Linked DNA regions of Homo sapiens. The protein of the gene in region 2 interacts with the protein of the main gene of each other region in a pairwise test. Each region holds a gene or a part of one and is shown on either strand. Other genes may lie near its edges.

The links. The genes of interacting proteins can lie anywhere in the genome.
Region 1: the proteins of VWC2L (region 2) and OTX1 interact in binary tests that used the Homo sapiens proteins (3 or more experiments, as listed by UniProt).

Annotation. Positions count from the first base shown.
Region 1 is NC_000002.12:63,046,951-63,053,832, reverse strand, and holds the start of OTX1 (homeobox protein OTX1), read right to left. Parts: upstream 3,004-6,882; 5' UTR 2,936-3,003; intron 2,585-2,935; 5' UTR 2,516-2,584; intron 954-2,515; 5' UTR 843-953; coding exon 746-842; intron 1-745. UniProt on the Homo sapiens protein: Probably plays a role in the development of the brain and the sense organs. Can bind to the BCD target sequence (BTS): 5'-TCTAATCCC-3'.
Region 2 is NC_000002.12:214,575,043-214,579,492, reverse strand, and holds the end of VWC2L (von Willebrand factor C domain-containing protein 2-like isoform 1 precursor), read right to left. Parts: intron 3,822-4,450; coding exon 3,673-3,821; 3' UTR 517-3,672; downstream 1-516.

The sequences.
Region 1 (6,882 bases), about 150 Mb from region 2:
AGGGCTGCCCCTCTCTATGCCTCTCAGAGGTTAAAAAAGTTAAGAGAAGTCTACAATCTCCCTTCTTCTACATCCCCTCTCCCCTGCACACACACACGCACACGCACACACACGCACACACACACTCTGGATGGGGGACAGGGAGTGGGGAAGAGGTAGGCAGAAACACGACCTGAAAAACACTTTCGGAGAAAATAAATGAGGTAAAGGAGCGGGAGCTAAAAAAGAAACCCCGGCTTTGGCTCAAGTCGTCCTCTACAGCAGCGCAAAAATGGGTGCAGGACATCGATTTAGAGGACAATTTAATTAGGGAGGAAGAATACTCCTTCAGTGCAGCCTGCCGCTTCGCATAAGGAAAGTTTGGCTCTTTCTGTCAGGGCCTAACGAGTGTCCAGATTACACATTCCATGTTGGGGAAAAAGGAAAAATACTAGCCGCCCCTGGGTAGCGAATCCGCAAGTAAATGAGCTCTGCGCTGGCGGTGGGACCACAACCGGAGAAAGGTTGCCGGTGATCCGGCCGGGAAGGCGCATATTGCGCGTTTTCTCAGCCCTGGCCACCTCACACGCCCACGACTCTGCCCCATGCGCCGGCAGTGGGCCCTGTATTGTAAACAGACAGTGGGCCCTGTGTTGCAGCCGGCTCCCTGGGCCTGCTCAGCAACAAAGCTTGCACTCAAATCCAACAGTCTGGGGGTCCCCAACATTTGAGAGGCTGAGGCAGGGTCGGGAGGGCTGGTGCTCACCCGGATAGCCCACGGATGGGTGCAGGAGGTCCATGGCGGGCCCGGCCAGGCCCAGCCCGTTCATGCCGTATGGGGGTTGTTTGAGGTAAGACATCATGCTAACAGCTGGGTGGAGGCGCCCCGACGGATCCAGGGGGCCCGGGGCCAGGAGCGGTGCAGGGCTCCCACCACGCAGTCCTTCAGGGTCTGATGCGTCTGGGGGCCTGGCCTATGAAGACACGAGACACACGGAAACCGTCAATCGGAGCCACTTGGCTGCCAAGTCTTGCCCCGGGATAGACAGGGAAGGCAGGTTACAGAACTGCGCAGGGTGGTCAACTGGGATCCACAAGGCCTTAGCCCAGAAACCACAGTTACTTTGAAAAGTAAAGTTTTCTGGGTCGTCTGGCTCTAGGGTTGGAATGAGCCAAAGACACTGGTAGGGAGTCCATAGGAGTAAGGAGAAGTTAAAAGCAGGGCCAGGCTGGGGAGGTCAGAGCCAGAACCGCGGAGTGTACAAGCTCCCAAGTCCAGGCAAAATTCTGAATCCGGCAGAAGCCAGCTTCATGTTGCACAAGCAAAGGTTCACTTGGTGCCCGGACGGCAGGCCGCCCAGAGCATGAGGCGTTGTTTCATTTTGTTTCACGTGTTTTTGAAAAGGTAGAGACTACAAAGGGCCAATGTGGAGGGCTAATTGCACTTCTTGTCCACTTAGACACTTGGTTCCTTTAAAGGTCTCCAGGGCTGCGCCCCTGCCCCAGATCCCGCAATCACCACTCCAGCTGACCTCTCTGTGCCCAGCCACTGAAAGATCGCTGACGCGAAATCCCACCGCACCTCAACCGCAGTAACGGGCCCAGGCTTCGCAGAGGGCCAGAGGACGCCGAAGGGGCCACTGTAGAGGGGGGCGACCCCAAGATGCGGCCTGAGGTCGGGAGCGCCTCAGCTGCGGCCAGCGTCCTTCGTTGCCAGCGCGCACCCGGCCTTCTCTCTGCCCAGTCTGGGCTGCGGACCGCAGGGTCCCAGCAGGGGGTGAAGGGTGACTGGCCTAGCACCTCAAAGGGTCTCGGGGATTTGTGAAGCCGGAGGGCAGCAAGTCGCGTGCTGCCATCCTTGTAGCTGAACCCGCGGCCCCAGGACACGGTCGAGAACAGAGAACTAGGCCTCAGCGGCGTAGCCCACGCAGACCCGAGCTGGGAGGTCGAAGCCTCGCCCCCGCCGCTGCCGGGAACCCGGGGTGCCACTCTCAGGGGTCAGGGAGGGGCGCTGGAAACTGGGCCTGGGGCCCTGGGGGGCCATCGCTACACCCCGCTTAGCGGGATCGCTGTGAAGCAAGCCAGGGACTCGGGCTAGGACGTTCAAGGAGAGAAGTTAGAGCTAAAGAAGCTCCCCCCAGCCCCGTTCCCGCCCCCGTCTTCTGGGACCCAAGACCTGGGCTGAGGGAGTCCAGCTTGTAGGAAGGGGACCGGAAGGGAAGCAGCCAGGGCTCTAGGGCCGAAGGAAAATGGGACTCAAAGCTGCGACGGCTTTGCGAAGCTGCAGCGTGAGTTTTCAAAGACTTTCTCCAAACTTAGCACTTCAGCTTGGTTACTTCGGAGGAGGCGGGGGAGGGGGCTGCGGGCCGCGACAGCGCCCCGGGGTCCTCGGCTCACCAAGAGGGGAGCCAGGCCGCTCCCACAGCCCCGACCACCTGCTGGGGACCGGGGAAGCCGGGATCCATTTGAGGAGGGGGAGATAAGGGTAACCAACGCGCTCCCGGAGTCCGGGGTGGCCCCGCGGCTTTCTCCTTACCTGCCCTCAGCTGCCGGGGCCGTTCACCATCTACCTGGATCTCTCACAGAGACCCGCCGGGCAGCCAACCTGCAAAACAGAGCAGCACTGGAATTACCCTGGCGGCTGGTCTAGGACCCCCAGGTTTCTTTCTTTTCCCAACTTCCTTCTTCCCACCTCTATCTTTTTTTTCAATGGCTTTGTGCGTGTCCTTCTGGGTTTCACTTTATTGCACAGACACTTTGTTTGCTAAGCCCCACACGTTCTCAGGACATTGCCTCGCCTGGGATCGCGCCGAGGGGCCGCAAGGGGGGGAATTCGAGGGGCAGAGTTGGGAGGTGGCTCGGCGTTGCCGCGGCACTCCCGGTGCAACGTGGAGGCAGTGGGGACTGGGAAGTCCTGCAGAGTCACTTTGCAAACTAAATAAATCAAGCGATTTACCTTGTCGGAGTGGCTTGTCTTGCTCGGTTGTTTAGGTGATTGGAAATGTAGCCTGATGAAGATTGATCACCTTTCTACTGCCCTCCCCGGGTATGTGAACGCGAGGCGAGTGCGTAACGGGGCTAGGCCGCCAATCGGGGGCCCCGCGCGGGCTGAGTGACAGGGAGCCGGGCAATGGCTGCGCGAGCCGGGGGTTACCTCCGCGCGCCCCCGCCCTCCCCCGCCCCCCACACCCCGCCCTCCCCGCCCTCCCGCCCCGCCCCGGTCGCGCGCTAACTCCGGGACTCGGCTGGCAAAAGCGGCGCAGAGCTAGGCGAGGAAGGCGAGCGGAGAGCCCGAGTCCTGGCCGCGGAGGGGGCCGTGGGTCTCCAGGCCTGCCCTGGGCGCCCCCGCCCTTCTCGCGCTCTCGGCGCTCCGGAGGGAGTGGCAGGGAGGAGGCGAGGTGCTGGAGAACCGGTTCCTTCGCTCTCCCGCGCGCTACAGGGCTCAGCCGCTCGGGTGTGGGCGCCAGGACCCGGGGGCGGCGGGCTGGAGGAGCCCGGGCCTCGGCCCCTCTCCCGGCGCCGCGGGCCCCAGCGTTTTCTTCCCCGGCGCCGCCACCTGAGACCGACGCCGCGGGCTGCTCGTGCCGGCGCAGGCTACTTTGCAGAGCGCGGGAGCAGCTCCGGGCGTGCAGATCTCTCCTCGGCCCCTCCGGACTCTCGCGCCTGGGAAGAGCACCCACTGGGAGGGCGCCGCCACTTACCTGCTTGCTCGTCGGCATCTCCCGGGGTTCCAGGTCCCCACCAAGGGTGTTTGCAAGTCTTAAGCGCTTCTACTGAAACGTTGGAGCCCAGCGTCCTCTTCCCCTCACACGTACACCCTACTTCTTAATTGAAACATTTTGATAGGAAAGTTTCTTTTTCGCTCTTTCTCTCTCTTTCTTAGACTGCCTCTAACAGGGACTTTTTGATGGAAAATGTGGCCACAGACCCCTGCCCTCAACTTTTTTCCACATGCTGCGTAAGGATCCTCCTTGAGGCGATTTCCCCGGATTGTTCGTACGGGCGAAGCCCATTTCCCACCCGAAAAAACTTCCCAAACACGTCTACCTGGGTGGACTTTTAAAAGTGCAAAAAAGAGTTTTCGTTCCAACTCTAAGCTAGGCGAATCTTTTAAATGGCACCTCCTCCTGAAAATTAGGCACTTTATTCCCTTTCGAGGAATTTCTACCCCTTGTTTCTAATCTCCCCCACTCCCCCACCCCGACAGGCGGGGTAAAAAGTTTGCACAGGATTAAGTGTGAGGGCAAGTCAAGGAGCCTCCAGGCGCATCGCAGTGGGGAGCACTCGCGCTGCCCGGGCTGCGGGGTCGGGCGCCGAGAGCGGACCGGGCGCTGGGTGAGGAGGAGGAGAACGAAGGGGGAGCCCGCTGAGTGAAAAGGGGCCGCGGCCGCCGCTCATCAAAGTGCTTCCCCCTCCCCCAAGCGACACTTTCCTTTGGAGTCCGAATAAAATACGGTAACAGAATATGATGGAGGGCACACTGTTTCCTTAACTGCTTCTCAAAGGACCCGGGAGATCTTCTTAGGACCTTTAATAAGGCTTTGGTCGGTTCTTTTGTTGATCTCTCAAAATCAACTCCTTCTAATTGAAGTTGGAGCTGAAAGCGAGCTAATGTTCAAAGAAAGTGGCCGCCAGACCAACGAAATTACATTTTTTTTTTGACGATGAGGGAACATCTAATCAAAGAGGCAGGGGAGGAGGGGTGGGAGTGGGGGCGTACGAAGGAGAAAAGGAGGTTTTACAAGATCCTTCTCTGGTTCACAAAAGTCAGCGACACGGGCGCTTCTCTACAGAACAAAGACACCGCGGCCCATTCACAAAAGGGAGAGAAAGAGAGAAAGCTGAATAAAAGAACGAGAGAAATGGGGAAAAAATGAGAGAGAGAAGGAGGGAGAGAGTGAGTGAGAAAGAAGCTTTAAGAGGAAAAGAAACAGTGCAGAGCGCAGCGCTAACCCAGGCGGGGACACACCTTAGGCTCGCGCAGGCCCCTACCAGGAGTAGCCCGCGAGGCCCGCGGTCAGCCGCCCGCGGCTCGGAGCCACTGTGATCGTGCTGAGGTTTAAAGAAAGCAACGAAATATACCCCTTCCTTAGGTTCCGAGGAAAGGCGCCGGCTGGAGCGCACTAGTTTTGGGGGAAAGAATATGCGGACGTCCCGGGGTGCGCTTCGCCGGCGTCCGCGTCCATAGCCCGGCGCTGCCCTAGTCCCGGCCAGTCCGCTGTGTGCCGGGGTTGGCCCTCCAGTGCCGGGGCGCGTGACCTTGCCCCATTCCTCCACCTTAACTCATTCCTCCCTCCACCAGGCCCTGTTTCGCCTGCAGCCTCAGCACCTGACCTGGGTCCGGCGCAGCGAGGTGGGACGGCAGTGCGCTCTGGAATGTGCCAGCGCGGTCCCCGGGGTACGCCTCGCGGGAGGCCGGCGCTCTCGGTTCCAGATGCTGCCACCATTCTCGGGGAAGTTGGGAGGTATCAAGTAGCACGGATTTTTTTTTTCCTAATTAGAGTATTTATCTAATCCCAAATTGCAGGCGAATTTTCTTAACGCTCAGCCCATAAAACCCCAGGATTAAGAAAAGAAAGAGGAGAGGGGGAGAGGGAGGAGAGTGGAGAGGGAGAGAGACTGGGATGAAAGTTTCTTGAAAGCAGCGCAGAGGATTGAGGCGGCCGTCGCTAGGCAAATGTCCAGGTGGGAGATGCTGGGCCAGAAGCCATGACCGTTCCAGCATCGGCCGCGGTGCGGGAAGGGGAAGTGGGGACACCACTGGAGGAGGTGAAGCCGTCCAGCTCAAGGCCCTCGAGCCGGGAAGGGGCGAGGGAGCTGGGTGTGGAGACAAGGATCCAGCATCCAGGTGACCTCCAGGCCCGGCCAGGCTCTGGAGGACACTTGGGACAAGGGGAGGGCTTTGGATCTGAGGCCGAGGGATCTGACCAGGGGCGGAAGTTCTGCTCCGGCCCGCAGACTGTGCCCAAGCAAGCCCGCTGCCAACGCCCCTGCTCCTCTGCGACCCTCGGACCGATAGTCTCTTTTCCCGCAGCGCGGGCTTTCGAGTTCCGGGTCCTCCGGCGTGCTGGGCTCGTGCCCGTTCTCGGGAGCCAGCGTCTGGGCACCACGCAGCGATGTCCGGATGCAGCGCCCTTGCCGCGGGCCTTACCCCGCCAGGCGCCGGAGTCCACGCTCCACCGCCGCTGAGGGGCGTTCGGGCGCCACCGAGCAGCCCAAATTGAAACCCCGAGAGGCTCGGGACTAAAGCTGAAGGGGCAGGTAGAGGGGCCGCCCGGCGGTCCCAGACCATCCTAGCAAATCTGGGGCGAGGGAAGGGTTGTCAGTTGGCCGATTGGGAGCGGCTTCGGGAGCGAAGGAGCTGCTTTTCGGCGAGGCCCCTCGGGAGTGAAGGTTCCTCGAATCAAGCGTAAACTGGGTGGGTGCTGTTGGCCGCCCAGGCCCCAGGCTGCTTGGGGCGGGCGATTTCTGTCTGCTGAGTTTTCCCGGGGTTAGAACGGGATTCTGAGAGCGTTCCCCAGAGAGCAGCAGCTCTCTCTCTGCTCTCGTGCTCGAATAAAGAGGGCAAATACCGACTTCATTTACTTAAAATAACTTTTCAATAACTTAAAAGAAATGCTCATCATGAAGGAATTCTACCGTAGCAAGTTTTTATCATTTTGAAAGACTGGCAACTGGAGGTGGCTGCATACTTGGAACGAAATTTGTTTGTGTGCACATACATACGATCTACGCTGAAGTATAAATGCTAGTGGACTTTTTTCTCTAAGTTTCTGGACTTGTTGAACAAGCTTTCTTTGTTTGGACACCCCTGTGGGGGAATGAAGGAAACTAGCATAGAATCGCTTTTTTTTTTTTTCTGTAGCCTAGAACTTCTTGTTAAAAGTTCTCTTTCCCTCATTT
Region 2 (4,450 bases):
TGTTTGAAAACTTTTATAATAAAGAATTCCTGCTTTGCTACTTACTAGCCTGTGACTTTGGGCAAAGCATTTAGCCTCTTTATATTCCGGTTTCCTCAAGAACAAAGCAGAAATGACAAGAGTTCCTCTCTCATAGGTGTGCTGTGTGGATTGAATACAATCCTGTGGGCACAGAGCTTAGTACGGGGCCTGGCTCAGAGCCAGCACTCAATAATTATAGATTATCGTTAGCATAGTATATGGATCTGGGGTCAGGAAAAGACTTTTCCTATCACTTACCCTGTCACTGCTGGCTTATTTGAGCCTCCTCTCGGATCCCCAAGTCAGCAATGCCTTGCGTTATGAAAAATGAAAATGTGTGCAGGCAAATGCAAAAGCTAATGCTTCATTCTAATTGAATACAGCTCTAATGACACATGTACTTTCAAATGATAGAAGTAACCGAGAATTAGTCATTAAATAATGAGGGTAGGGAGAAAGGAGAAATGTGGGAAGGAAAATATACCACAAACAATGTTTGCTGGTTAACACACTTTATATTTAACAAAATAATTTTTTAATAATATATTCTTTTACACATCAAATATTGTTGCTAGAATCCCCTTTTTACAGTTTAGTGTTTAGGTTTTTTTTTTTTCTCACTAGTTTTCAGGCACGCCATTTTTCAAAGATTTTAGAAACTGAATCGTTTTTAATAGGCATCAGCTGACAAACAAGATGTTGATCCCTTATTTTAACATAGCTGTTGTTAAAGCCGAGAACCAAAGGCGGAGGAGAAATAGGAGTACAGAGATGACAGTGTGGCTGCAAACAAAGACTTCACAAGAAACAAACAACAGATGAGACCAGAGCTCTGTTGTTCAGAGTCTGGAAAGAATTTCTCAATGACCTGGGTAGAAGGAAGTTGTAAAATGTTTATCAGTTTATGAGAAATTGTCACAGTATAGGTTCATCTCTCCCTAAAGGGGGAAAAATGTCAGTGCTACAAAATCTTAAAGGAAACAGCCTGCAGTGAAACTTTGAGAAAAAGAAAATCCAACAACAACAAAACCAACCATAAAAATCCCTCTCTCTAGCTGGTTATCAGAGGCCACAGAACAGCCTGCTTTCTGCAAACTCTCTGAAGAGAGATCCTTAATGGATGTCCCATTCAATTCTAGTAAATTCTTGCTGTGACTCTCGCTGTGCCAATGCTTTGATGCAAAATTTCTGCACTTCAGCTTCCCAGTTGTACTCTCTTTCTGTTTTCTAAAAAAGGACATAGTAACTCCTTAATAATAGATAAGGTACTATGCTGCATGGCTCTATTAATGATATTTTCTGAGTTTCAAACCTTATTCCTGTCATTTATTATTATTATTTCTTTCCAAGAGTGTGGATTTTTGAAGTTGGCAACAGGCAACCTCGGGGCAAAGAAAGCTCTATAATACATCTCTGTCTAGACATAAGCTAAAGTGTGGAATTCCTTTACTTTTGAGTGCAGACATAAATCATGCAGCATTGCTCATGAATGATTCATGACTGTCTATATGATGTATCCATGGTGGCAAATGAAAGGCACCAACCTTGCTGCAAATTGGTGTTCTAAGGGAAGGTGGCTTGATGCTCTTCCTCGGGATGGTGCCGGCATGGCTATTTGTATCATAACGCAAGCACAGTGTGCATAAGAATGTCAGGTCTGACTCGTCAGCACGTTAATTTTGGAAATGACAACTCTTTCTTGATGACAGCAGATGCTTCCAGGGAGGAGAGGCTGACAATTTTAAATGAAAAACCAGTTGACAAGACTCAAAAAAATATGTTTCCTGAGGGTGGGCCTATAGCATTAGAAGCCTCACTCTCTATGGAGAAGACTGACCCCTTGGAAATGCTGACTGTGTATGTCCCATAGGGATCAGAAGCTCACAAAAGCCACAGGTGCTGCTAGAGCTTGCCTACTGTGTCCCCTGCCAGAAACCACTCTATACTGATTATTCTAGACCACTGGTTCTCAACGAGGTGAAATTAGGCCCCTCACTCCCACTCCTTAGGGACATTAGGCAATGTCTGGAGAAATTTGGTTGTCACCAGTTGCTGGGATGTTGCTAGTGGATAGAGGCCAGTGATGGTGCTAAACATCCTAAAAGCACACAGGACAGCCCCCACCAACGAATAATGATCTGGCCCCAAATGTCAATCCTACTAAGATTGAGACACCTTGCTCTAGAATATGGCTCTCCACAGGAGCTATGGCAAAGCCCAGGTTGGGGGAGCAGAAAAAGAAAGAACATTGATAATAAAGACAACTGTAAAGTCTCTTCAAGGACCCTATCAGATCTGTGCCAGGGTTTTTAGGGCAGGAGCATGGAATAAGCGACTAACTATGCCATGTGGTTTCAGAATTGTTAATTTTGCACTTGAATCGAGGTGGCATCAGATACCCTGTGTGTTTTGTTTTTTCTGTTACTATACTAGCAGCATTACCAGGGCAACCTAGAGACTCTTCAAAGGTTCACTTTAATTTTTCAGTATCTAATATATACATTTTAAAAAATGTTCAACAAATGGAATTGTATTGTGCAAGACTCACTCTACCCTAATCTTTAATTTAAATCAGCACTTGAGGTGGAAAGGGTGTCCTGAATCTGTGTTTCAGACATAGGGCTGAGTGGTTGTTACTACAACATGGCAAACACAGTCCCGAACCACAAAAACTGCCAGTGTGTACTACTGACTTTTAGCCAAATCTGAACTCAAAAGCCAGAGATGTTCATAAGGATTTGGATTCACAGTGGGTTTTCTCACCCTGGTTCTGGTATTTATATTGCCTGATGACAGTGAGTTTAGAGTGTGTTTAGCTACAAACCAAACTCAAATTTCACATCATGAAAAAGTCTGATGATTAATGCTACAATTTTAAAGATCTGTCTCTCTTTGGATTCTTTAGTTGAGCTTATGGTGTTCTTTACGTAATAGATTTTGATTGGCAGTTTCGAGGTTTTCCATATGAAATGTGTGGTTTGTAAGAATTAAATTGTGAGCCCCCACGTAATGGACAAAGTACTTGTTCCCAACCCTGTCCAGCAATAGGCCCGTCTATGTGCCCACCCCTCTTTCCTTAGTCTACAGGGCATGATTCACCCTAGGGGAGCAATTGACTGGATGCTCTTGTGTTTCCCAGCTCGGGAAAGATATTTCCCCTGACATTCCTTTACCAAACTTTTTTTTTTACACAACTCAAAACTTTACTGTGCAGTCAAATTTAGCCCCTTAGACTCTAAAAGTGAAAAAACAAATATTACAGGAGAACAATGCCATGTACAATGTACAGAAGAGTAAAAATGAAGTAAACCAGGGGACAGTGAGCTGGTAGGTCAGAGGCATTACCAGGGAAGGAGCCTGTGCAAGGCTATTTCTTTCTTTTTGTTCCAGCAATCCAGTCGTCAAGTCACCATCAAGCATTGGTAAATACAAAAGCGATTTAGATAGCTATATACTATATATATTTTATATAGCAAGAGAGAAAGAAATTTCCTCTTAGGAAAATATTCACTTTTGTCAACCCTAGAAAGTTTTGCTGGTGACCCTGTTGTAGCTGGCAGGAGTTTGTTTGTTTTGTTTTGTGTTAAACATGTGCAGTGTTGAAGCCATAGCATCCTTTCCTAAGAACTCATCATTGGGTGGAAGTTTGTCCTACACAGTCTGCTTGCCTTGGCATTCACGTTTCGAACACTGAGCAGGCTTCCACCAGTCCCCGTTGTGACAATGACAGATGTTACATTCGTCCACTTTCACTTCAATGCCAGCTGGAATTATCGTCGTTCCTGCAAAGCAGTTTGGACCTGAAACACACAGATACATTGATTAGTTGATTAAATCTGAGAGGCTCCCTTTCTCCCCACCATCCAAACCCAAGCCCCAAAGCCATAAATGAGTAAGTCAGACTACTCTACTGACTTATCATCAAGGAATTTTCTAGCCATCTCCTTGAAATTCAAAGTTGCAACTCTGCTACCTTTTGCACACAGCTCATATTTCCCGTGTATATTGTGAACTTAAATAAAAAGAGACAATCTTCAAAAAAAATCGTATTTTCTGCTTCCTGAGTACATGCAGTTTTCTAAATTTAGGTTCTGTGGGTTAAACTGTATTTGTTTTGTCCTCTGAGGTGTAAAGGCTGCCAGCGTATGCTCTGAAACACGAGGGAGGGCTGACATGGTCGGCCTCAGATGGTGGCACCCTTGGCCTGTCCTTCTCTTTTCCTGTGGTGGGTATGAGACAATAAACTCGCTCGTTCCCCAGTTTCAGTGCCTCCCCAGCCCAGTTCCTGGAATCCCCAGCTTGTTTCTTGATAACAATGAATAATTCATGACCAGATGATTTATTCATGTCCTGAACAAGCTTTGTTAGAGGTTCATTTGATTTTTATAAATGGACTTCCTTTAATCTGCTGGCTCTTTTTTTTTTTTTT